Homo sapiens: one gene and its partners. The main gene of each other region encodes a partner of the protein of the gene in region 2 in a complex. Each region holds a gene or a part of one and is shown on either strand. Other genes may lie near its edges. The genes, in order: GEMIN4, SNRPG, PRPF8 and GEMIN2.

Region 1 (5,344 bases), on a different chromosome or scaffold from region 2:
ATCATTCCCTTATCCAAACCATTCATTCATCCAAATCTTGACAACCCCTCCTGAGGCAAAAGCTAACGTGACCCATCCATTCAGCACATCTCTGCTGGGTTTGCCAGGTCTCGTCTTCACAGTAGCCCCTTTGGGGGTGACTGAATAGATGGAGTTAAGACTGTATGGGAAGTGGGTGTGCTTATTGTCCCAGCTACTCAGGAGGCTGAGGTGGGAGGATCACTTGAGTCCAGGGGTTCAAGGCTAGTCTGAGCAACAAAGACTGTACACACTCCTCAATTCAGAGGGGACCCATTTTCTTGAGGTCACTAACCTAGCCCCTCGCCACTGAGTTTATCTTGGTCCTCCAATCCTCTCATTTTAGAATTGTGCAGGCCTCTCGGGCACAGCAGTCTCATGGCCAGAGGCAGAGCCAGGGCTGGACTGGATTCTTTTCCAAGCTGCTGTCCTTTCCAAGATACCTCAAGAAAAAAACATTAAAAGACGAAATAACTCTTGAAGGGGGTTATACGTACCATGTAATGCTTTTTCCACTCACATGGTTTCAACTTTGGGCTTATTTGCCAAAATCTAGGATGGAAAAGTCCAGTTATGAACATGTTCCTCCTGGCTGGATTTGATCTTGAAGACACTAAACCCAATTTCAGAGCATATTTAATCCTGGGCTATTGCTGAGGCCGACTTAGAAGAGACAAAGTGAGATGCGAAAGAGGAGAATTTTTATGATAGTTTGTACGTTACAAATACCCAAGAAACTATTTTCTTTACACCATTATTGCCATGACTTTTTGTGGACAGTTTCACATAACTGTAAAGTCCAGGCTGCTCGGGTCTGACCCCTACAGACCTGCCATGTTGAAGCCCAGCTTTTTCGCTCCCGCACAGGTAAGAAGCTGCTGATCTTCTGCAGACCCGCCATGTTGGGGCCCAGCTCCCCACGCCAAGTCAGAAGCTGCTCATCTTCTGCAACAGGGTTTGGCGCCGTTCTTCAGGGCCGATGCCCTCAGCAATGGACTTTAAGAAGCGCTGCTCGTGTGCCCTCTGGAGCAAGGAGCTGACAGAAGGGTTGGTCTTGCTCAAAGTCTCATAGCAGGTGAGGGTTTCCAAGGCTAAAACGTAGAGTGGCTCACAGACCTCCGGGTGGAGCATGGCCATGATGTGCAGAGCATGGCAGAACACCTGGGTGTAAACAAACAGGGCTTCCTGGGTCAGGTCCTGCTCTGGTCCTTGAACCCAAGGGCCAGCTGCCTGTATCGCCCTGACTGAGTCCAGGAGGCGGGTCAGACTGCCACAGAGGAGTTTGACCACGTGGTTCCAGCCTTCCAGAGGAAGCCAATCACGACAGCTATGGCTGCAGAGAAACTGGAAAGTCCTCAGGAAGAGGACGGAGAGTTGCAACTCCTGGGCAAAGGGCTTCAGGTTGAGCAGGGGAACAAACTGAATATATTCCAGGCTATAAGGGACATGGAGGAGCTGCTTCTCCAGCAGTCTCCTGGTCAGCTGGTGAAGGCGCTGCCACTCCTGAGGGCTGCACCAAGGCATGACTTGCACCAGGGCCACCAGAAAGCCTTTGCTGAACAGTCTGACCTCCTCAGGATTGCCCACGTCCACCACCAAGAGAGACAGCATCCTCTCCGAGATGCCGCTGGAGACGCAGCAGCACTCCATCCAGGCCAGGAGCCCCGTGCCAGCCCCGTACCCTGGGTGGGCCTGGGAGGTCCACTCGTCTTCTGAAAGCTTACAGATCTCAAAAAGTGTGGCTGGCACTTCACACTTGAAGTGCCCCTCGAAGAAGCTCTTCAGCCTCAGGCCCACAGTCCAGTCTAGCTGTTCTAACTTGCGGTGGAGCCAGGACAGGGACTTGATCCAGACATCCGGGGAGAAGGTCTCAGCATTGGCTGATACAATCTCACACAGGAGCTCCAGGATATGGATCGCTAGATCCTTCCTATCCAAAGAGAGGCACCGCTTCTCCTTGGGAAGCTGCCAGTATTTGCTGAAGCGGTCCAAGAGCTGGCACAAGCTGAAGAGGAGTGGAAACGGGGAGCAGGTCTGGAGCCAGTATTCCTCTCGGCACGCGTTTGCCTCTAGAGTCTGGATGAAGATCCTCAGACTGAGGTCTACCTCTTCAACATCTAACCTCAAGAAAGGCAGGACAAATTCCTTCAGCACCTCGTCTGGCTCAAGAAGAGCAGCCACTGGAATCCCTTGGGGTTTCACGGGACTCATCAGGCAGTTCAGGAGCTCTAAAAATTGCTTTTCTTCCTTGGGTGTAGAGAACTTCATCCAGACGGTTTCTTTGAGGCATGACACCATGAAAGTGGCAGATGAATTGGGACCCTGCTCTTCCACAAACCTAAGGGCAGGGAAGGCAGTGAGAATCTGGGCCAGGAACTTGTGGGTGCCGAGATTGACCACAGCCAGGCTGCACATTTTCTTCACCGTGACTTCCGGGTGCACTATGACCAGGCGGGCCACGGAGGCCACAGCTTTTGCCAAGCCCTGTTCGGAGGCACTCTGAGTGAGCTGGTTAAAAGTTGTATTGAGGTCTTCCTGAAAACCCTCCACATAAGCCAGCAACTTTTCAGAGAGGCCCTTTCGCCCCCAGGAACGCAGGATACCTGCAAGGACTTTATTTTTACCTGGCAGGGAGAGGTCTGCGTAACATTCCAGGATCAGGTGGATCACCTGCCGGATCTGAGACTCAGGGATGGCTCTGTCAGCTGTGCTGACGTCTATCACTGTTTCCAGCAGCCTCAACACCAAGTCTGGCTGTCGGAAGAGGGCCCTGTTACTCCCCAGGCAGGCTACCCACTCGTCCGAGAAGGCCCACTTCTTCTCAGAGGCAAAAATGTAGCACACTTCCATATGGCGGTCCATCTTCTGCTGGATGACGGCCATGGCAATGGAAGCTGTGATATCCTCCAAGGCCCTGTTCTTCAGCACCGTGCTCGTTTTCCTCAGGAAGTCCCTGACACACTCCGCCAGCTCAGAGACCACCTGCCTGTCCTCCTTGGACAGGCTGGTGCGGTTCAGGTAGAGCGTCGCGTTCTGGCTGAAGGAAGTCAGACTGTCGCACAGCCGGTAGCTGTCGTAACTTGTCCCCTGGCTGCTGCGGAGCACGGCCTGCAACTCCTCCCCCCACTCCCGCAGCAGGTGGTGCAGGAACTCGCAGCCCACGAAAATGGTCTCACTGGGGAGTTTGGCCAGCGAGGTCAGGCTGACATCCCGTTCTGCCTCCTTCACCTTCTCTGCCAGCGCCTGCTGGTGGTAGGGATTCTGGGTGTCCGAGTTCCACACAGAGATCACCGTGGCCAGTTTGTCCAGATACACGGTTGCAGACACCTCCTGGGGGTCGTCCTCTGTCAGCGCAAACACAGTCAGCATGTCAGCCAGGTTGGCCAGCGCACAGCACTTCCTCCCCGGGCCCAGGATCCGACTCTGGATCTGTGTCAGCCCGCGGAGCAGCATGGCCAACAGGGGCATGGTGGGGCACGCGTCTGGGTCTGACCTAAGCCTCTTTGGAGGATGGGGGAACTCATCTAAGGCAGGCAGGTACTTATGGGCCATTGCACTAAACTGGGAGAGCAGGGGGTCCTGCGGGTGACCCTTGTGCTTCATCACCTCCCACCAGACGTCCAGGAAGAAGGCCACGTCTTCGGCAGAAGTGTCAACGGTCACATGTTCCAGAAAGCGCTCTAGTTCTGCATGGCAGATGGTGGTGGGCAGGGCCATCAGGAGCTGGATAAAGAGTCCAGAAGCTTCCAGGGATTTGAGCAGCTCGAAGAGGATGGTGTGGTTGATGGTGGGGATCATGTTGCCCACCGAGAAGAACAGGTCTTCCTGCCACCGTGTCTCTGTGTCGGACGGGGTCACGGGGTGCGGCTGCAGAACCTTGGCCCAGATGATGATCAGGGCTTTCTTCTTCCAGGCAAAGGGCTGGGAGTGTGCTGCAGCCGAGGAGATCTCCCTTAAGGCCTCCACGATGGGCCGTCCAACACGTTCCCAGTCAGACTTTGTTAATTCTGCCAGTGCCTTAGGGTGGAACAGCTGCTCGGCCAGCAAGAAGCCTCCATGCAGAATAGTCATTTCTTCACAGATGTTCAAGGGTCCTGCACACAGACAAGCCAAATAAGACAGTATAGTGAAAATGTTTCCAGATGGCCACTGCTGTTAGTAGGCTGTCATGGTTTGAGATGACAAGGGTTTTAAAGGACATCAGCGGACGGGGAGAAGGGATGACTACAAGAGCCACTGCACAGCTGGAGTCAGAAGGACTTGGCCGAGGAATCCAGAATGGCTTCCGAGCTCTCCAGCCTGGGAACTGGGAGGCCACCAGGTGACATCACATACAGGGAATGGAGGAGAATCAGAGCAGGTGTGAGGAAAGATGAGTTCAGCTTTGGCCATCAAGGTACAGATGTCCTCCAGCAACGGAAATGCCAGGTGGAAGTTCAGGAGGGAAGTAAGCTGGGAAATGTGATTCTGAGAGGTATCTGCCCAGAGGGGATCACCGGAACCAAGACGGTGAATGAGATCCTTCAGGAAAAGTGTGTGAAAAGAAAAAGCTGGGCTGCTGAGGCGAGACCCTCCAGCAAAGGCTGGGCCAGCAGAGGATGTGGGGAGAGGGGTTTAGAAATAGGAGGACAGTACAAACTACAGGGGCCACTGAGCATGTACCACAGGACATGACAGCTGAGCTTCTCATGACAGATGAAGGGAGCATAGCCACAGGGTAATGGGCACAGAGCAATCACACAGCCACAGGGTAACAGGCACAGCAGCAATCACACGGCCACAGGATAATGGGCACAGAGCAATCACACAGCCACAGGGTAATGGGCACAGAGCAATCACACAGCCACAGGGTAATGGGCACAGCAGCAATCACACAGCCACAGGATAATGGGCACAGCAGCAATCACACAGCCACAGGGTAATGGGCACAGAAGCAATCACACGGCTACAGGATAATGGGCACAGAGCAATCACACAGCCACAGGATAATGGGCACAGAGCAATCACACGGCCACAGGATAATGGGCACAGAGCAATCACACGGCCACAGGGTAATGGGCACAGCAGCAATCACACGGCCACAGGGTAATGGGCACAGAGCAATCACACGGCCACAGGATAATGGGCACAGAGCAATCACACGGCCACAGGATAATGGGCACAGAGCAATCACACGGCCACAGGATAATGGGCACAGAGCAATCACACGGCCACAGGGTAATGGGCACAGAGCAATCACACGGCCACAGGGTAATGGGCACAGAGCAATCACACGGCCACAGGATAATGGGCACAGAGCAATCACACGGCCACAGGGTAATGGGCA
Region 2 (2,936 bases):
GAGCCACCATGCCCAGCCATTCTTTTTTAAATCTGCTCTTTACTACCTTATCATACTCATTGCTGATAATTGGCTGCCAGGTTCCAAGACACTTATCCTACCAATTGTGTTCCCTTCTATTCTGTCAGCTGCAGTAATCACATGTGAGTTCTTTTATTCATATTTACCAGGTTATTGAGCCCTCTGTGTGCCTGCTACTATTTTAGGCACTGGGGTTTTGCACCTAAGTCCCTGCCCTCATAAAATTTACATTTGTATGGAGAACACAATAAATCATAGCGTATGTGTAAATAAAACAAGCATGATACTGTGAGAAAAGAATAAGTTACAACTACTTTTACTCTAGCTGCCTATAAGCATAGCTCCACTTTGAATCTTTTTGGAATGCCTCCATTTCTAATAAACACCTCAAATTATTACATTACCTTTCTCTCCCCTACATTACCTATTCTTTCCCTCCCGTACCCCTCCATTCACCTATCCAATTCTACTTGACTGATGGGTGATCTATCGATTATGATGATCTCCAGTCTATTAGGGACTTACTGTTTTTAGTCCCCTAGCCTTCCAGTTTCGCTTATTTTTCTACCCCTCTTGAATTCATTTACCAGCTGATTCATCTATACTCTGATAAGTTTGTCTGTTGGTTTGTTTTGGTTTTGGTTTGTTGTTTTTTTTTTTTTTTTTTTTTTTTTTTTGACAAAAGACAGTTTCGCTCGTTGCCCAGGCTGGAGTGCAGTGGCGCTATCTTGGCTTACCGCAACCTCCGCCTCCCGGGTTCAAGTGATTTCTCCTGCCTCAGCCTCCTGAGTAGCTGGGATTACAGGCATGTGCCACCACACCCGGCTAATTTTTTATTTTTAGTAGAGATGGGGGTTTCTCCATGTTGGCCAGGATGGTCTCGAACTCCCAACCTCAGGTGATCCACCCGCCTTGGCCTCCCAAAGTGCTGGGATTATAGGCGTGAGCCACCACACCCCCGATAAATATTCTTATCTTCATTTATGGCTTATCTACTAGGTCAAGCACTGTTCTCCTAGGGCCTTTTTTTTATAACTTCTCTTTCTGCCTCTAGGTTCTGTCCTATTCAAACTTCGGCGTATTTATATAATATCTTGTTGCAGGGACACTTATGGTTGTCATTCCCCCAAGTGAAACTCTCACTGGCTCATTGTTAGTTTCTGATGTCCTCCAAACACTAAGATTGGCATTTGAAGCTTTCCAAGATTGAATGCCAACTATCTTTGTTTCCTGATTCTCTTCGTGAACTTTTTACTGCATTCAAATTAGATTACTTCCTTATCCTCTCATACTTTGTCTTCATCTTAGTTCTGTCTAGAATTTCCTACAATCTCCTTTTCAAAATTCTGCCCAATTTCCAAGACCCAGGTAAAATGTCATTTTCATAAAGCATGCCTTTCACAATTTCCCATCCTGGTTTCTTCCCTAAATGATCTCATACCTCCAAACTGTACCTAACATACTCTACTGTACATATTTTACTCATTAATTTTTGGATCCCATAGAGTCAGGGATGGGCATTTAAATTTGAGTCCTGCATTTTAGAAGGTGAAATTAGGGCCAGGCGTAGTAGCTCACGCCTGTAATCCCAGCACTTTGTGAGGCTGAGGCAAGCAGATTACTTGAGGTCAGGAGTTTGACACCAGCCTGGCCAACATGGTGAAACCCCGTCTCTACCAAAAATATAAAAATTAGCTGGGCGTGGTCAGGGCTCCTGTAATCCTAGCTACTTGGGAGGCTGAAGCAGGATTGCTTGAACCTGGGTGGCAGAGGCTGCAGTGAGCCGAGATTGCGCCACTACACTCTAGCCTGGGCAACAGAGTGAGACTGTCTCAAAAAAAAAGGTGAAATTAGTCATTGGAGACTTGGCATTAGAATCTCATAAAGCAAATTGTTAGCCTTAAATCCAAAAGATGTCTGTCGTATAAAGGGCTTAGAGTTGTTTGGTGTCCCTGTGGCTTGAACAAAGCTTTGCAAACCGACATGTAATATTAAAAAACCATTAATGATTTGGTGAAAATTCTTAAATCATCATAGTTATGTCTGTTACCTGAGTTGTTCTTTTCAAATTTATTTTTCTCTTTCTTAGGTAATACGAGGAAATAGTATCATCATGTTAGAAGCCTTGGAACGAGTATAAATAATGGCTGTTCAGCAGAGAAACCCATGTCCTCTCTCCATAGGGCCTGTTTTACTATGATGTAAAAATTAGGTCATGTACATTTTCATATTAGACTTTTTGTTAAATAAACTTTTGTAATAGTCAAAAATGCTTTCTCAGATGTTCTGAATATAGAATATCAGCTCTCATTCCAGTTTTTTCTAACATGAATTTTCCTGGTTGACATTGATTTCAAAGGGTTTTATGCATTAAAGTGAAAGAATCTTATTAAATGTGAAACATGGCAAGGATTCCTTCTGTCCATCATCTTTCAACACTGAACAGATAAAGAAGTTACAAACATGAGTGAGTTTCTTCTAAAACACTAATTTTCAAAACTTGTAAGAATAGTAACTTTGATCTAGCCTGACTTTCCCAAGTACATCTACATTCCAAATATAGTACAACAGAAGCAAAAGACAAGAAGTAATGATGTAGTTGTTTATTTTGAATATAATCATGAAGTGGGGAAAAATTTTAATACAAGAGTAGAAAGAGGATTCCAGAGAAAAACATTCCAGTGTATCATGGTTCTTTGTGAGTGAGTAGAGAGGGGTAGTGAGGATGCTGTCCACAATGTATTCATCTAGTTAATGAATTGTATGGCCCACAAGCTCAAACGAGAGATACATTACAGATGGTTGTATTATAAACCTAATCTTAAGAAACCTTACCAAGCAAATGCTTAAAGACTGATTTTTTTGTGATCTGATAAAAAGCCTGCAAATCGTGAATCACTTTTAAACTGTACAGA
Region 3 (7,057 bases), on a different chromosome or scaffold from region 2:
GGAGGTTAGCAGTGTGCTGGGAAATGGCAGGATATCACCTCACCTGCTTCTCTTGCTCCCCAGGGAGAAGGCCAGTGGCTTTGAGGAATCTATGAAGTGGAAGAAGCTAACTAATGCTCAGCGATCAGGACTGAACCAGATTCCCAATCGTAGATTCACCCTCTGGTGGTCCCCGACCATTAATCGAGCCAATGTGAGTGTGATTGACACTGGAGAGGGGAAGCTAAAGACAGTTGCTGCTTCTTGCCTTGGTTATGTCGTGAGCGCCCGAGTCTCTTGATCTCTAATGTCACATTGTCGTTTTCCTGGCAGGTATATGTAGGCTTTCAGGTGCAGCTAGACCTGACGGGTATCTTCATGCACGGCAAGATCCCCACGCTGAAGATCTCTCTCATCCAGATCTTCCGAGCTCACTTGTGGCAGAAGATCCATGAGAGCATTGTTATGGACTTATGTCAGGTGGGCTGGAATCGAGGGGAGAGGGTACTGTAGAGAGTCAGCTCAGGTGGAATTGAGGGGAGAGGGTACTGTACAGAGTCAGCTCAGGTGGAATCGAGGGGAGAGGGTACTGTACAGAGTCAGCTCAGGTGGAATCGTGGGGAGAGGGTACTGTAGAGAGTCAGCTCAGGTGGAATCGCAGGGAGAGGGTGCTGTACAGAGTCAGCTTAGGTGGAATCGCGGGGAGAGGGTGCTGTACAGAGTCAGCTCAGGTGGAATCGCGGGGAGAGCGTGCTGTACAGAGTCAGCTCAGCTTGCTCTTTTGCATATGGGAAATCCACCCTGGAAGCTCTGAGGATGAGACTCCTATTGCCTCATTATCTTATTGTACAAACTCTGATTTTAATTGGGCTTCCTTAACAAGTCTTAATCTCTCCATGTTTTCCTTCAGGTGTTTGACCAGGAACTTGATGCACTGGAAATTGAGACAGTACAAAAGGAGACAATCCATCCCCGAAAGTCATATAAGATGAACTCTTCCTGTGCAGATATCCTGCTCTTTGCCTCCTATAAGTGGAATGTCTCCCGGCCCTCATTGCTGGCTGACTCCAAGTAAGTGCCTCAGGACCCAGCCCTAGGCAGCCAGGACACTTTCGTTTTCCTGTTCTTCTAGCCCTGCAACTTTAGGAATTGTCCTGTCTGCCTTTGTTTCAAACTTGGAGCCAGTGCTACGCTTGGAGCCTGTCAACACCCTTAGTCAGATCTGCTGATTCTCTGGGGTCCTGCTGACCTGGAACAAGTTGGTGGAGTGGGTGGGATGGTTTTGGGATTTAAGTGGTTCTGGTTCTGGGGACATTGGTTATGCCCATGGTTTCTTAGAAGCTTGAACCCTCTTCATCCTCAGGGATGTGATGGACAGCACCACCACCCAGAAATACTGGATTGACATCCAGTTGCGCTGGGGGGACTATGATTCCCACGACATTGAGCGCTACGCCCGGGCCAAGTTCCTGGACTACACCACCGACAACATGAGTATCTACCCTTCGCCCACAGGTGTACTCATCGCCATTGACCTGGCCTATAACTTGCACAGGTGAGTTGAGGCTCAGGACCATGTATTTTCAGGCCAGGCGCAGTGGCTCACACCTGTAATCCCAGCACTTTGGGAGGCCGCGGTGGGCAGATTGTCTGAGCTCAGGAGTTTGAGACCAGTCTGGGCAACATGGTGAAACCCTGTCTCTACCAAAATACAAAAAATTAGCTGGGCGTGGTGGTCCACGCCTGTAGTCCCAGCTACTCAGAAGGTTGAGGTGGGAGAATTACTTGAACCCGGGAGGCGGAGCTTGCAGTGAACCGAGATTGCGCCACTGCACTCCAGCCTGGGCGACAGAGTGAGACTCCATCTCAAAGAAAAATAATAATAATAATAAATAAATAAATAATCCGTGTATTTTCCATTAGCTCCATACTTTAACGTAGTCATACTTTTTTACTTTACCTAAGTGAGAGGAAGTGGCCCATTCCTCCTATGGGTCACTGATTCTCTTCTCCAGCCTGTATGTACACATGAGCAGAGTGTTGTCAGCCTGGCGAACAGTCTTTCTTCCTCTGTAGAGTTGGCAGCTTGTCTTGTTTCTGGGGCTGTCATTCTCGTCTTAACTTTTCTTGACCCTTTTATCCTCACAGTGCCTATGGAAACTGGTTCCCAGGCAGCAAGCCTCTCATACAACAGGCCATGGCCAAGATCATGAAGGCAAACCCTGCCCTGTATGTGTTACGTGAACGGATCCGCAAGGGGCTACAGCTCTATTCATCTGAACCCACTGAGCCTTATTTGTCTTCTCAGAACTATGGTGAGCTCTTCTCCAACCAGATTATCTGGTTTGTGGATGACACCAACGTCTACAGAGTGACTATTCACAAGGTGAGTGTTAGCAGCAGTGTATAGGTGCGGGACTCTGTACATGGCTGTGGGAGAGTAATGGGCTAAGTGTGTACACATGCTGGGAAGAAGGCAGGATGGGGATGTGTTGTGTAGGCCATGCTAACGAATGCCGTCCTCCTCTAGACCTTTGAAGGGAACTTGACAACCAAGCCCATCAACGGAGCCATCTTCATCTTCAACCCACGCACAGGGCAGCTGTTCCTCAAGATAATCCACACGTCCGTGTGGGCGGGACAGAAGCGTTTGGGGCAGGTGAGCAGGTTTAAAGATGAAGAGGCTGTAGAACCATGTTGCCTCTTATTCTTGGGGTGGACTTGGTAATATTTACTGGTTTATTAGATGAAAGGCTGAGAACATCTCATTTGAACTTATCCCCAAAATACCTTGGGAAGTATTCTGTGGGAGGTCCAAGAGTGTATGAGGTGCTTCGTTCCCTTCCAGCTGGTCTGTTTCCTGAATTTCTAACCTTGAACAGGGCTATCAAAAATCATTTTTCCAAAGGCAACGCATACTCTTTTTTTTTTTTTTTTTTTTTAGCCGGAGTCTCGCTGTGTGGCCCAGGCTGGAGCACAGTGGCTCAATCTCGGTTCACTGCAAGCTCCGCCTCCCGGGTTCACGCCATTCTCCTGCCTTAGCCTCCCGAGTAGCTGGGACTACAGGCGCCCGCCACCACGCCTGGCTAATTTTTTTTGTATTTTTTAGTAGAGACAGGGTTTCAACGTGTTAGCCAGGATGGTCTCGATCTCCTGACTTTGTGATCTGCCTGCCTCTGCCTCTGCCTCCCAAAGTGCTCGGATTACAGGTGTGAGCCACTGCTCCTGGCCAGCAATGCATATTCTCTTTTTTTTTTTTTTTTTTTGAGACGGAGTCTTGCTCTGTTGCCCAGGCTGGAATGCAGTGGCCTGATTTCAGCTCACTGCAAGCTCCGCCTCCCAGGTTCACGCCATTCTCCTGCCTCAGCCTCCCGAGTAGCTGGGACTACAGGTGCCCGCCACCACGCCCGGCTAAATTTTTTGTATTTTTAGTAGAGACGGGGTTTCACCATGTTGGCCAGGATGGTCTCAATCTCCTGACCTCGTGATCCGCCCGCCTTGGCCTCTCAAAGTGCTGGGATTACAGGCTTGAGCCACCGTGCCCGGCCCAGCAACGCATATTCTTGAAACATCCACTTTGACCAAATCTCTTCTCTACCTCACAACTCTTGCTGAATTAACTCTTCTTTAGCTTCCTAGACGTTCAACATCTGGCTGGGCTGTATCTGTCCAGCCAGTTTCTCTTCCTTTACATTTATAGCATGTTTCATCTTACATTCAGTCCAGGATCTTAGTAGCCCAAACCCCTGATGCTCATCTCCAAATCTGTGTTTTGCTTGTATTTTTCTTTCTAGAATGAACTCCCCTCTTTGCTCTGTTAATCACAGTCCCTCCTTAAGACACGTTTTTTTGTGCAGCTTTTTTCTGATCCTAGTAGCCTTAATTTCTTTTGTTCCTGAACTCTGTAAAACAGTGTATAGTTTAGCACATACTCATGTGTCAGCTTGTGGTATTGTCTTGTTGAAAGGGGCTGTCAGCCTGGTCATTGGACACGGCCATTTGATACTCTTTGTACCTTCTAAGTGCCTAACATTTAACATCAGTGTTCAATAGAAACGTAGTTGGATTATTTCAAAACTAGGATATTCTGTTCTAGTTGATCTGGGAGGGTAGAGACTAAATTTCCATTTTCTTCTCTCTTGCTTTTAAGTTGGCTAAGTGGAAGACAGCTGAGGAGGTGGCCGCCCTGATCCGATCTCTGCCTGTGGAGGAGCAGCCCAAGCAGATCATTGTCACCAGGAAGGGCATGCTGGACCCACTGGAGGTAAGAGGGTGGGGTGGGGTAGGAGAAAAGAGACCTTGAGACCTTCAGGCTGTTTCTCATCTTGGACTTGATCTTGTCTTAGGTGCACTTACTGGACTTCCCCAATATTGTCATCAAAGGATCGGAGCTCCAACTCCCTTTCCAGGCGTGTCTCAAGGTGGAAAAATTCGGGGATCTCATCCTTAAAGCCACTGAGCCCCAGATGGTTCTCTTCAACCTCTATGACGACTGGCTCAAGACTATTTCATCTTACACGGTATGAACCTCGGGAAGAGAAGATCGCTGGAGGAGGAGCGGGTTTAGGGTTAGGAGAAGATCCTGTGTCAGGTTTTTGCCATTTTCACATTTTTAGCCTATAGATTGGGTGGGAACTCTGTTGACTTTCATGAGAGTTTAAGACCTTAAAGTTAAAAATCAACTCTTGGGGCCGGGCGTGGTGGCTCACGCCCGTAATCCCAGCACTTTGGGAGGCTGAGTTGGGTGAATCACCTGAGGTCAGGAGTTTGAGATCAGGCTGGCCAACATGACGAGACCCCATCTCTACTAAAAATACAACAAAATTAGCCGAGTGTGCTGGGATGCACCTGTAGTCCCAGCTACTCGGGAGGCTGAGGCACCAGAATCACTGGAACCCAGGAGGCAGAGGTTGCAGTGAGCCGAGATGGCACCATTGCACTCCAGCCTGGGCGACAGAGTAAGACTGTCTAAAAAAAAAAAAAAAAAGGCCGGGCGCAGTGGCTCACGCCTGTAATCCCAGCACTTTGGGAGGCCGAGGCGGCGGATCACGAGGTCAGGAGATTGAGACCATCCTGGCTAACACAGTGAAACCCCATCTCTACTAAAAATACAAAAAATTAGCCGGGCGTGGTGGCAGGTGCCTGTCATCCCAGCTATTCGGGAGGCTGAGGCAGGAGAATGGTATGAACCTGGGAGGCGGAGCTTGCAGTGAGCCGAGATCATGCCACTGCACTCCAGCCTGGGCGACAGAGCAAGACTCTGTCTCAAAAGAAAAAAAAAAAATTCTTGGGTTTCATGAAAGGTTAGGATTAAAGTGGGAGAGCCTCAAGCAGCTGACCTACCCCACTCTTCCAAATCTTTTCCCAGGCCTTCTCCCGTCTCATCCTGATTCTGCGTGCCCTACATGTGAACAACGATCGGGCAAAAGTGATCCTGAAGCCAGACAAGACTACTATTACAGAACCACACCACATCTGGCCCACTCTGACTGACGAAGAATGGATCAAGGTCGAGGTGCAGCTCAAGGATCTGATCTTGGCTGACTACGGCAAGAAAAACAAGTGAGCAGTGCTGGTGGGGACACAGACAGGAGGTCTATATACGGTTTTCTGGGGTTTTTTGGAAGCACTTAGGCTTAGAAGTTTCTCAAGAAGGCCAGGCGCGGTGGCTCATGCCTGTAATCCCAGCACTTTGGGAGGCCAAGGTGGGTAGATCATTTGAGGTCAGGAGTTTGAAACCATCCTGGCCAACGTGGTGAAACTCCGTCTCTACTAAAAATACAAAAGTTAGCCGGGTGCGATGGCGCCTACCTGTAATCCCAGCTACTCGGGAGGCTGAGGCAGGAGAATTGCTTGAACCTGGGGGCAGAGGTTGCAGTGAGCCGAGATCATGCCACTGCACTCCAGCCTGGGCGACAAGAGTGAGACTGTCTCCAAAAAAAAAAAAAAAAAAGACGTTTCTCAAGAAATTATCTTGTCTTAGCCAGGCTTGAGTGCTCATGCTAGTAATACCAGCACTTTGGGAGGCCAAGGTGGGAGGATTGCATGAGCCAGGAGTTGAAACCAGCCTGATCAACAAGAGACTGACGCCATCTCTACCAAAAAAAAAAAATTTAAAACAGGTGTGGTGGTACACGCTTGTAGTCCCAGCTTCTTGGAGGCTGAGGCAGGAGGCTTGCTTGAGCCCGGGGGTTTGAGGCTGCAGTGAGCCATGATGATGCCACTGTACTCCAGCCTGGGTAACAGAGCGAGACTCTTGTCTTGAAAACAAGGAAAGAAATTATCTTACAGAGTCTCGAGGAAGAGAGATACAGCAGTGTCTTCGAATAGTATGGGAAGCATCCCTGTTTTAGGGCTTCAGTCTGACTCTTGGCCATTGTTTCTCACTGTTGCCATTTCAAACAGGGCATTTCTTTACTGTCCATACATGGGAAGAATTTTGAACATCCGAGACCCTAAGTATCCGAGACTGCTGCCAACACACACACACACCTTCCTCCCCTCGTCTCCCTCCCTGTCATCGTGGCAACCAAAATTATCCATAGGGTGACGGACAATACCACCTCTGATTAAGAACCAGTATTCTAGGGTTTCTGGGGTTTCCATTTCTGAGAACAGTTCCATGCCAGAGCATTGTTTTGGTCAAGGAAGCGTAGGGTTTATGGATGCTAAACAGTGGGAAGGTGCACACGCAGTGTGCTGTCCCGCTTGGATCTGACGAATCTTGGAAGTGTTAGTGCACCTCCGTTTCACACTTCCTGTAGAAGCAGCTCTTGTGGATTGTCTGGGGCGTGAGTATAGGCTGTCCTGTCCTACCAAGTTACACCCTTTCCATTGAGGCAGAAGTGACCAAGGGGAAGGGATCCTTGTAATATAACCCACACCATCCCCACAGTGTGAACGTGGCATCACTGACACAATCAGAAATTCGAGACATCATCCTGGGTATGGAGATCTCGGCACCGTCACAGCAGCGGCAGCAGATCGCTGAGATCGAGAAGCAGACCAAGGAACAATCGCAGCTGACGGCAACACAGACTCGCACTGTCAACAAGCATGGCGATGAGATCATCACCTC
Region 4 (7,057 bases), on a different chromosome or scaffold from region 2:
ATTTTGAAATGGTGTATACAACATATTAATGTCATCTTATCAATGTTACAGTTTTATTGGATATACTTAATAAGTTAGTTTTTTCAAGTACTATCATGTAAAAAATTTTTAGTCTTTAACATTTTACTTACTAAAATCATACTTTATTTAAAAATTTACAAATTCAGACCAGGTGAGGTGGCTCATGCCTGTAATCACAGCACTTTGGGAGGCTCTGGCAGGTAGATCACTTGAGCTCAGGAGTTCCAGACCAACCTGGGCAACATGGCAAAACCTCATCTCTACCAAAAATACAAAAAAATTAGCTGGGCGTGTTGACATGCACCTGTGGTCCTAGCTACTCGTGAGGCTGAGGTGGGAGCATCACCTGAGCCCAGGAAGCAGAGGTTGCAGTGAGCCAAGATCGCGCCACTACACTCCAGCCTGGGTGACAGAGTGAGACCCCATCTAAAAAAAAAATTACATATTCAAAATTTAAGGCGTTATTTTCTTCCGCATTACAAACATAGTAGTTTCCGGAATGTCTCATTGTTATGGACAATGAAAGAATTTTCTTTTATTTGTTCTTTGTTTCTAAACAACAGTGTGGCAAGAAATTCACCAGTTTGAAAAAAAAAAATGAAGCTTATAATACCATTTAGTAAAATTCAGTCTCATTTTTTCTTTCAGATTGGTTTTCCTCCCTTGCTTAGTATTGTTAGCAGAATGAATCAGGTAAAATTAATAATAGAGATATATGCATTCTTTTGTTTGCATTGTGTGTGAAAGTATTTGAATTGTTAATACATATACTGAATTCTTACAGTATGCAAGACTTTGTCCTAAGCTCTTTAATGGTTCTTATTTAATCCTTACTACAACCCTCTATGGAGAGTTATTATTGATAACTACTTTTTATAGATGAGGAAACAGCATTTGAGGTTAAGTAACTTGCAGGTGGTTTTTCAGCAAGTAAATGGCAGTACTGAGATTCAGTGCCAGGTAGATCTAACTCCAGAGCTCATGCTCTGTCTTAATCATGGTGCTAGAGTATTCATTTCTGTAGCTTTCAGTTATAAGTCTTAGATTCTGGGGTTTGAATTAAATACAAGGTCCCTGACTTACAATGGTTCAGTTTAGGATTCCTTTTTTCCCACCATGCCTGGCTAATTTTTGTATTTTCAGTAGAGAGAGGATTTTGTCATGTTGGCCACGTTGGTCTCGAACTCCTGGCCTCAACTGATCCACCCACCTTGGCCTCCCAAAGTGCTGGAATTACAGGCATGAGCCACCATGCCCAGCCATTTTAGGAATTTTCAACTTTACAATGTGTTTATCAGCACATAACCCCATTGCAAGTTCAGGGGCATCTGTACTAAGGTTAGATTGCTATTTCTAGTTCTAGATGTCCTATACATTCTATTAAGATTGAAATATGGGCCGGGCGCGGTGGCTTATGCCTGTAATCCCGGCACTTTGGGAGGTCAAGGCAGGTGGATCACAAGGTCAGGAGTTCGAGACCAGCCTGGCCAACATGGTAAAACCCCATCTCTACTAAAAATACAAAAATTAGCTGGATGTGGAGGTGTGCACTTGTAATCCCAGCTATTTGGGAGGCTGAGGCAGGAGAATCGCTTGAACCTGGGAGGCAGAGGTTGCAGTGAGCCGAGATCGTGCCATTGCACTCCAGCCTGGGCGACAGGGCGAGACTCTGTCTCAAAAAAAAAAAAAAGAAAGATTGAAATATATGATTTCTTGGATCAAAAGGGAAGAATTATGGAGTTTGGTTCTTCAGTTTTTTAGGAGTAAGGACTCTTATTCATTTAAAAAGCAAATAAAAATTTAATTTTATCTTCACATAGCATTGGGTACCTTTGGAAGCCTTTTTTTTTTTTTTTGGCAGGGTCTCATTCTCTTGCCCATGCTGGAGTACAGTGATGTGATCTTGGCTCACTGCAGTCTTGTACTTTGGGGCTCAGGCAATCCTCCCACCTCAGCCTCCTGGTAGCTGGGACCACAGGCATGTGCTACCATGCCTGGCTAATTTTGTTTATTTTTGGTAGAGACAAGGTCTCACTGTGTTGTCCAGGCTGGTCTGGAACTCCTGAGCTCAAGCGATCCTCCCACCTCAGCCTCCCAAAGTGCTGGGAATACAGGTGTGAACCACTGGGCCCAGCCAACAATTTTTTTTGTGGGTGATATTCTCTTGGAAATAATACACAAGCTGACAGTGTTACTTAATCATTTGCATTAAGATATTGTAGCAGTCATACTAAATTCCATCAGTGTCATTTTTGTTGTAACCATCAACTGTATTTGAATAAACCAGAGATTATTTTCAAGAGTTTGATAAATCCATCTGTATAGTTTAAGAACAGATTTTTCTCCACCTAAATTTTTATTCAGATTTGTACTTTGATTTAATTTGAATTTAGAAATAAACTGATGGTTTTTTTGTTTTGTTTTGTTTTGTTTTGTTTTTTGAGAGGGAGTCTCGCTCTGTCGCCAGGCTGGAGTGCAGTGGCACAATCTTGGCTCACTGCAACCTCCACCTCCCAGGTTCAAGCAATTCCCCTGCCTCAGCCTCCCTAGTAGCTAGGACTACAGGCGCACACCATCACACCCAGCTAATTTTTTGTATTTTAGCAGGGATGGGGTTTACCGTGTTGGCCAGGATGGTCTTTGTCTCCCGACCTTGTGATCCACCCGCCTCAGCCTCCCAAAGTGCTGGGATTATAGGCATGAGCCCACCGCGCCTGGCCAACTGATGGTATTTTTACAAATACATCTTTTTTTTTTTTTTTTTTTGAGACAGAGTTTCGCCTTTTGCCCAGGCTGTACTGAAGCGGCAGGATCTCAGCTCACTGCAACCTCTGCCTCCTGGGTTCAAGCAGTTCTCCTGTCTCAGCCTCCCGAGTAGCTAGGATTACAGACCCCGCCACCATGCCTGGCTAATTTTTGTATTTTTAGTAGAGACGGGGTTTTGCCGTGTTGGCCAGGCTGGTCTCAAACTCCTGACCTCAGGTGTGCCATTGTTTTTTTTTTTTTTTTTTTTTTTTGAGACAGAGTCTCACTCTGTTGCCCAGGCTGGAGTGCAGTGGCAAAATCCTGGCTCACTGCAACCTCTGCCTCCCAGGTTCAAGGGATTCCCCGGCCTCAGCCTCCCTAGTAGCTGGGACTGCATTCACTCACCACCATGCCCGGCTAATTTTTGTATTTTTAGTAGAGATGGGGTTTCACCATGTTGGCCTGGCTGGTCTCAAACTGACATCAAGTGATCCACCTGCCTCGGCCTCCCAAAGTGCTGAGATTACTGGCAAGAGCCACTGAGCCTGGCCACAAATACATTTTCTTTTAACCTTGTGAAGTCTTTCAAGTAGTTACAAACTAAATTATTAATAGTTACAAACTAAATCCTAGGATTTAAACCAAGGTGTTAGTTGATATTTGAAAGTGTGAAAATATTTGTTTTAAAAGCCTCACTGGGGCTAGGCGCGGTGCCTCACACCTGTGATCGCAGCACTTTGGGAGGCCGAGGAGGGCGGATCACCTGAGGTCGAGAGTTCGACCAGCCTGACCAACATGCAGAAACCCTGTCTCTACTAAAAATACAAAAATTAGCCGGACGTGGTGGTGCACGCATGTAATCTCAGCTACTCAGGGGGCTGAGGCAGGAGAATTGCTTGAACCCGGGAGGCGGAGGTTGCAGTGAGCCAAGATCGCACCAGTGCGCTCCAGCCTGGGCAACAGAGTGAGACTCTATCTCAAAAAAAAAAAAAAAAAAAAAAAAAAGCCTCATTGGATAAGCCGCCTAATCAAACTAATTAGAGTCAAACAAATTAGCTTTCTTTGAAAGTTTAAAGAATGAGGCCATTTTTAACATCAGAGTTGCTTTCTAAATAAACTTAATGAAACTCATGTTGAATTCATGTTTTATTATTAATACAACTCTTCTCCACCCCCTCTTTTTTTTTTTAGGCAACAGTAACTAGTGTCTTGGAATATCTGAGTAATTGGTTTGGAGAAAGAGACTTTACTCCAGAATTGGTAGTATTGCATGTTTTTCTTTTCATAATGTAGGCAAAAATTAGACGTTTTGGGTCAACTGTGGGCCACATATACAATGGTGCTCCTATAGGATTATAATACTGTATTTTTACTGCACATTTTCTTTTTTTCTTTTCTTTTTTTTTTTTTTTTTTTTTTTGAGACAAGGTCTCGCTCTGTTACCCAGGCTGGGGTGCAGTATTACAATCATAGCTCACTGCAACCTTGATCTCCCCAGCTCAAGCAATCCTCCTGCCTCAATCTCCTGAGTAGCTGGGACTACAGGCGCATGCAGCCACGCCCAGTTTTTTTTGTTTTTTGTTTTTTGTTTTTTTTATTAGAGACAAGGTCTCACTGTGTTGTCCAGGCTGGTCTTGAACTGAGTCCAAATGATCCTGCCTCCTCACCCTCCCAAAATGCTGGGAATTACAGGCATGAGCCACCATGTGTGCGGCCTTTTGTGTTTTTTAAATAGAGACGAGGTCTCACCATGTTCCCCAGGCTGATCTCAGACTCCTAGGCTCAAGTGTTCTTCCCACCTTGGCCTCCCAAACTGTTTGGATTACAAGCATGAGCCACTGAGCCCGGCTCCTTTCCAGTATTTAAATATGTTTAGATCTGGCCAGGCACAGTGGCTCATGCCTGTAATCCCAACTACTAGGGAGGGCTGAGGCAGGAGGATCACCTAAGGCCAGGGAGGTTGAGGCTGCAGTGAGCCATGATTGTGCCACTGCACTGCACTCTAGCCTGAGTGACAGAGTGAGACCCTATCTTAAGAAATAAATATATGGTTTTTTTGGATGCACAAATGTTTACCATTATGTTACAGTTGCCTACAGTATTCAGTATAGTAATGTGCTATATAGGTTTGTAGCCTAGGAGCAATTGGCTATGCAATATAGTCTAGGTATAGTAGACTATACCATCTAGGTTTGTGTAAGTATACTCTATGATGTTCATCCAGGGTCAAAAATCACCTAACAATGCATTTCTCAGAATATATCTCCCTTCATTAAGTGATGCATGACTGTACTTGATGTGATGCTACGGTATTTATTTATTTTTTATTTATTTGTTTGTTTTGACATGGAATCTCCCTCTGTTGCCCAGGCTGGAGTGCAGTAGCGCGATCTCGGCTCACTGCAGCCTCCACCTCCTGGTTTCAAGTGATTCTCCTGCCTCAGCCTCCCAAGTAGCTGGGATTACAGGCACCTGCCACCACACCCAGCTAATTTTTGTATTTTTGTAGAGACAGGCTTTCTCCATGTTGGCCAGACTGGTCTTGAACTCATGACCTCAGGTGATCTGCCCGCCTCCACCTCTCAAAGTGTTGGAATTACAGGCGTGAGCCACTGCACCCAGCCAGTATTTATATTTATATTTATATTTGTATATGTGTGTGTGTGTGTATATACATATGTATAATCTGAACTATACTTGTTTGTAGTCAAATAAGAAACACTAGAATGTAAATCAACATACTACTTCCTTCATTGAGAAAGTCTTGGAGAAAAAAAGTCAATGAAAGAGTTGATGTATATCCTGGTACAAGGTACAAACTCCTTATCTCATTGCAGACAAGTTTGTTTTTTTTTTTTTTTTTTTTTTTTGAGATGGAGTCTCACTCTGTCACCCAGGCTGCAGTGCAGTGGTGCCATCTCGGCTCACTGCAACCTCTGCCTCCCAAGTTCAAGCAATCCTCCTGCCTCAGCCTCCTGAGTAGCTGGGACAAGTGTAGAGAATATTTAATTTAAATTAAATATTTAATTTAAATGCTAGCTTTACATAGTAAATGTATCCCTTAAAATTTGAGTCAAGTTGAAACATATAATTTTTTTTTATAGAAAAAGAATTCCACAATTTGTAAAAGAAACCTGGATTTGAATCTTTTTCTGTAAGAAAAAGTCTTAACTATTGATTTGAGTTTGCCTGAGGAACCCATTTAGTGTGTTGTATAAATTGCTATTTAAATTTTGTCCTAATATTTTTTAGGTTTCCCCGAAGTGATATGTTGCTTAGAATAAACAAAGTTGTATATACTACTGGTGGAAATACAAATTTGGTATAACCTTTCCAGGATACAATCTGGTGATCATATCTGAAAAACCTTGATGAATATACATACCCTTTGTCACCATTTTACTTGCAATACTTAATAAACTTTCCCCATGTTGTTAAATGAGATTAAACAAGGGAATGTTATTAAATACTCTAAACAAGACACTTAACATTCCCTTGTTAATCCCATTTAACTACAAGGGATGGCTGAGTGGGGTGGCTCACTCCTGTAATCCCAGCACTTAGGGAGGCCGAGGTGGGCGGATCACTTGAGGTCAGGAGTTCGACACCAGCCTGGCCAACATGGTGAAACCCCCATCTCTACTAAAAATACAAAAATTAGCTGAGCATGGTGGCGGGCGCCTGTTGTCCCAGCTACTCAGGAGGCTGAGGCAGGAGGATTGCTTGAACCTGGGAGGCAGAGGTTGCAGTGAGCCGAGATGGCACCACTGCACTCCAGCCTGGATGACAGAACGAGACTCCATCTCGAAAAAAAAAAGAAAAAGGACAAAAACAACATGGTAAACATTTTATTATGTATTATAAATAAAAAAGATGGCTACAAGATGATATTACAACTGATGAAATTGTATTGAAAAAAGGTTGTACAGCCGGGCATGGTGGCTCACGCCTGTAATCTCACCACTTTGGGAGGCTAAGGCAGGCAGATCACTTGAGGTCAGGAGTTCGAGACCAGCCTGAACAACATGGTGAAACCCGGTCTCTATTAAAAATACAAAATTAGCCGGGTGTGGTGGTACATGCCTGTAATTCCAGGTACTCAGGATGCTGAGACAGGAGAATTGCTTGAACCCGGGAGGCAGAGGTTGCAGTGAGCCGAGATCGCGCCATTGCACTCCAGCCTGGGCAACAAGAGTGAAACTCTGTCTCAAAAAAAAAGAAAGTTGTACATACGAATAGGAAAAACAAGAACATTTTTAAAGTGAATCAAAGTTTGATCTGGAATGTTGGG

Evidence for each region.
Region 1: SNRPG (region 2) and GEMIN4 share a complex: the UniProt entries of both Homo sapiens proteins name them as parts of the SMN-Sm complex.
Region 3: SNRPG (region 2) and PRPF8 share a complex: the UniProt entries of both Homo sapiens proteins name them as parts of the U4/U6-U5 tri-snRNP complex.
Region 4: SNRPG (region 2) and GEMIN2 share a complex: the UniProt entries of both Homo sapiens proteins name them as parts of the SMN-Sm complex.

What each region holds. Positions count from the first base shown.
Region 1 is NC_000017.11:743,921-749,264, forward strand, and holds the end of GEMIN4 (gem-associated protein 4), read right to left. Parts: intron 4,113-5,344; coding exon 946-4,112; 3' UTR 501-945; downstream 1-500. UniProt on the Homo sapiens protein: The SMN complex catalyzes the assembly of small nuclear ribonucleoproteins (snRNPs), the building blocks of the spliceosome, and thereby plays an important role in the splicing of cellular pre-mRNAs.
Region 2 is NC_000002.12:70,280,859-70,283,794, reverse strand, and holds the end of SNRPG (small nuclear ribonucleoprotein G), read left to right. Parts: intron 1-2,110; coding exon 2,111-2,161; 3' UTR 2,162-2,433; downstream 2,434-2,936. UniProt on the Homo sapiens protein: Plays a role in pre-mRNA splicing as a core component of the spliceosomal U1, U2, U4 and U5 small nuclear ribonucleoproteins (snRNPs), the building blocks of the spliceosome.
Region 3 is NC_000017.11:1,653,834-1,660,890, reverse strand, and holds part of PRPF8 (pre-mRNA-processing-splicing factor 8), read left to right. Parts: intron 1-63; coding exon 64-193; intron 194-312; coding exon 313-459; intron 460-889; coding exon 890-1,050; intron 1,051-1,342; coding exon 1,343-1,534; intron 1,535-2,127; coding exon 2,128-2,365; intron 2,366-2,509; coding exon 2,510-2,638; intron 2,639-4,129; coding exon 4,130-4,243; intron 4,244-4,325; coding exon 4,326-4,499; intron 4,500-5,347; coding exon 5,348-5,541; intron 5,542-6,874; coding exon 6,875-7,057. UniProt on the Homo sapiens protein: Plays a role in pre-mRNA splicing as core component of precatalytic, catalytic and postcatalytic spliceosomal complexes, both of the predominant U2-type spliceosome and the minor U12-type spliceosome.
Region 4 is NC_000014.9:39,124,323-39,131,379, forward strand, and holds part of GEMIN2 (gem-associated protein 2), read left to right. Parts: intron 1-669; coding exon 670-714; intron 715-3,957; coding exon 3,958-4,026; intron 4,027-7,057. UniProt on the Homo sapiens protein: The SMN complex catalyzes the assembly of small nuclear ribonucleoproteins (snRNPs), the building blocks of the spliceosome, and thereby plays an important role in the splicing of cellular pre-mRNAs.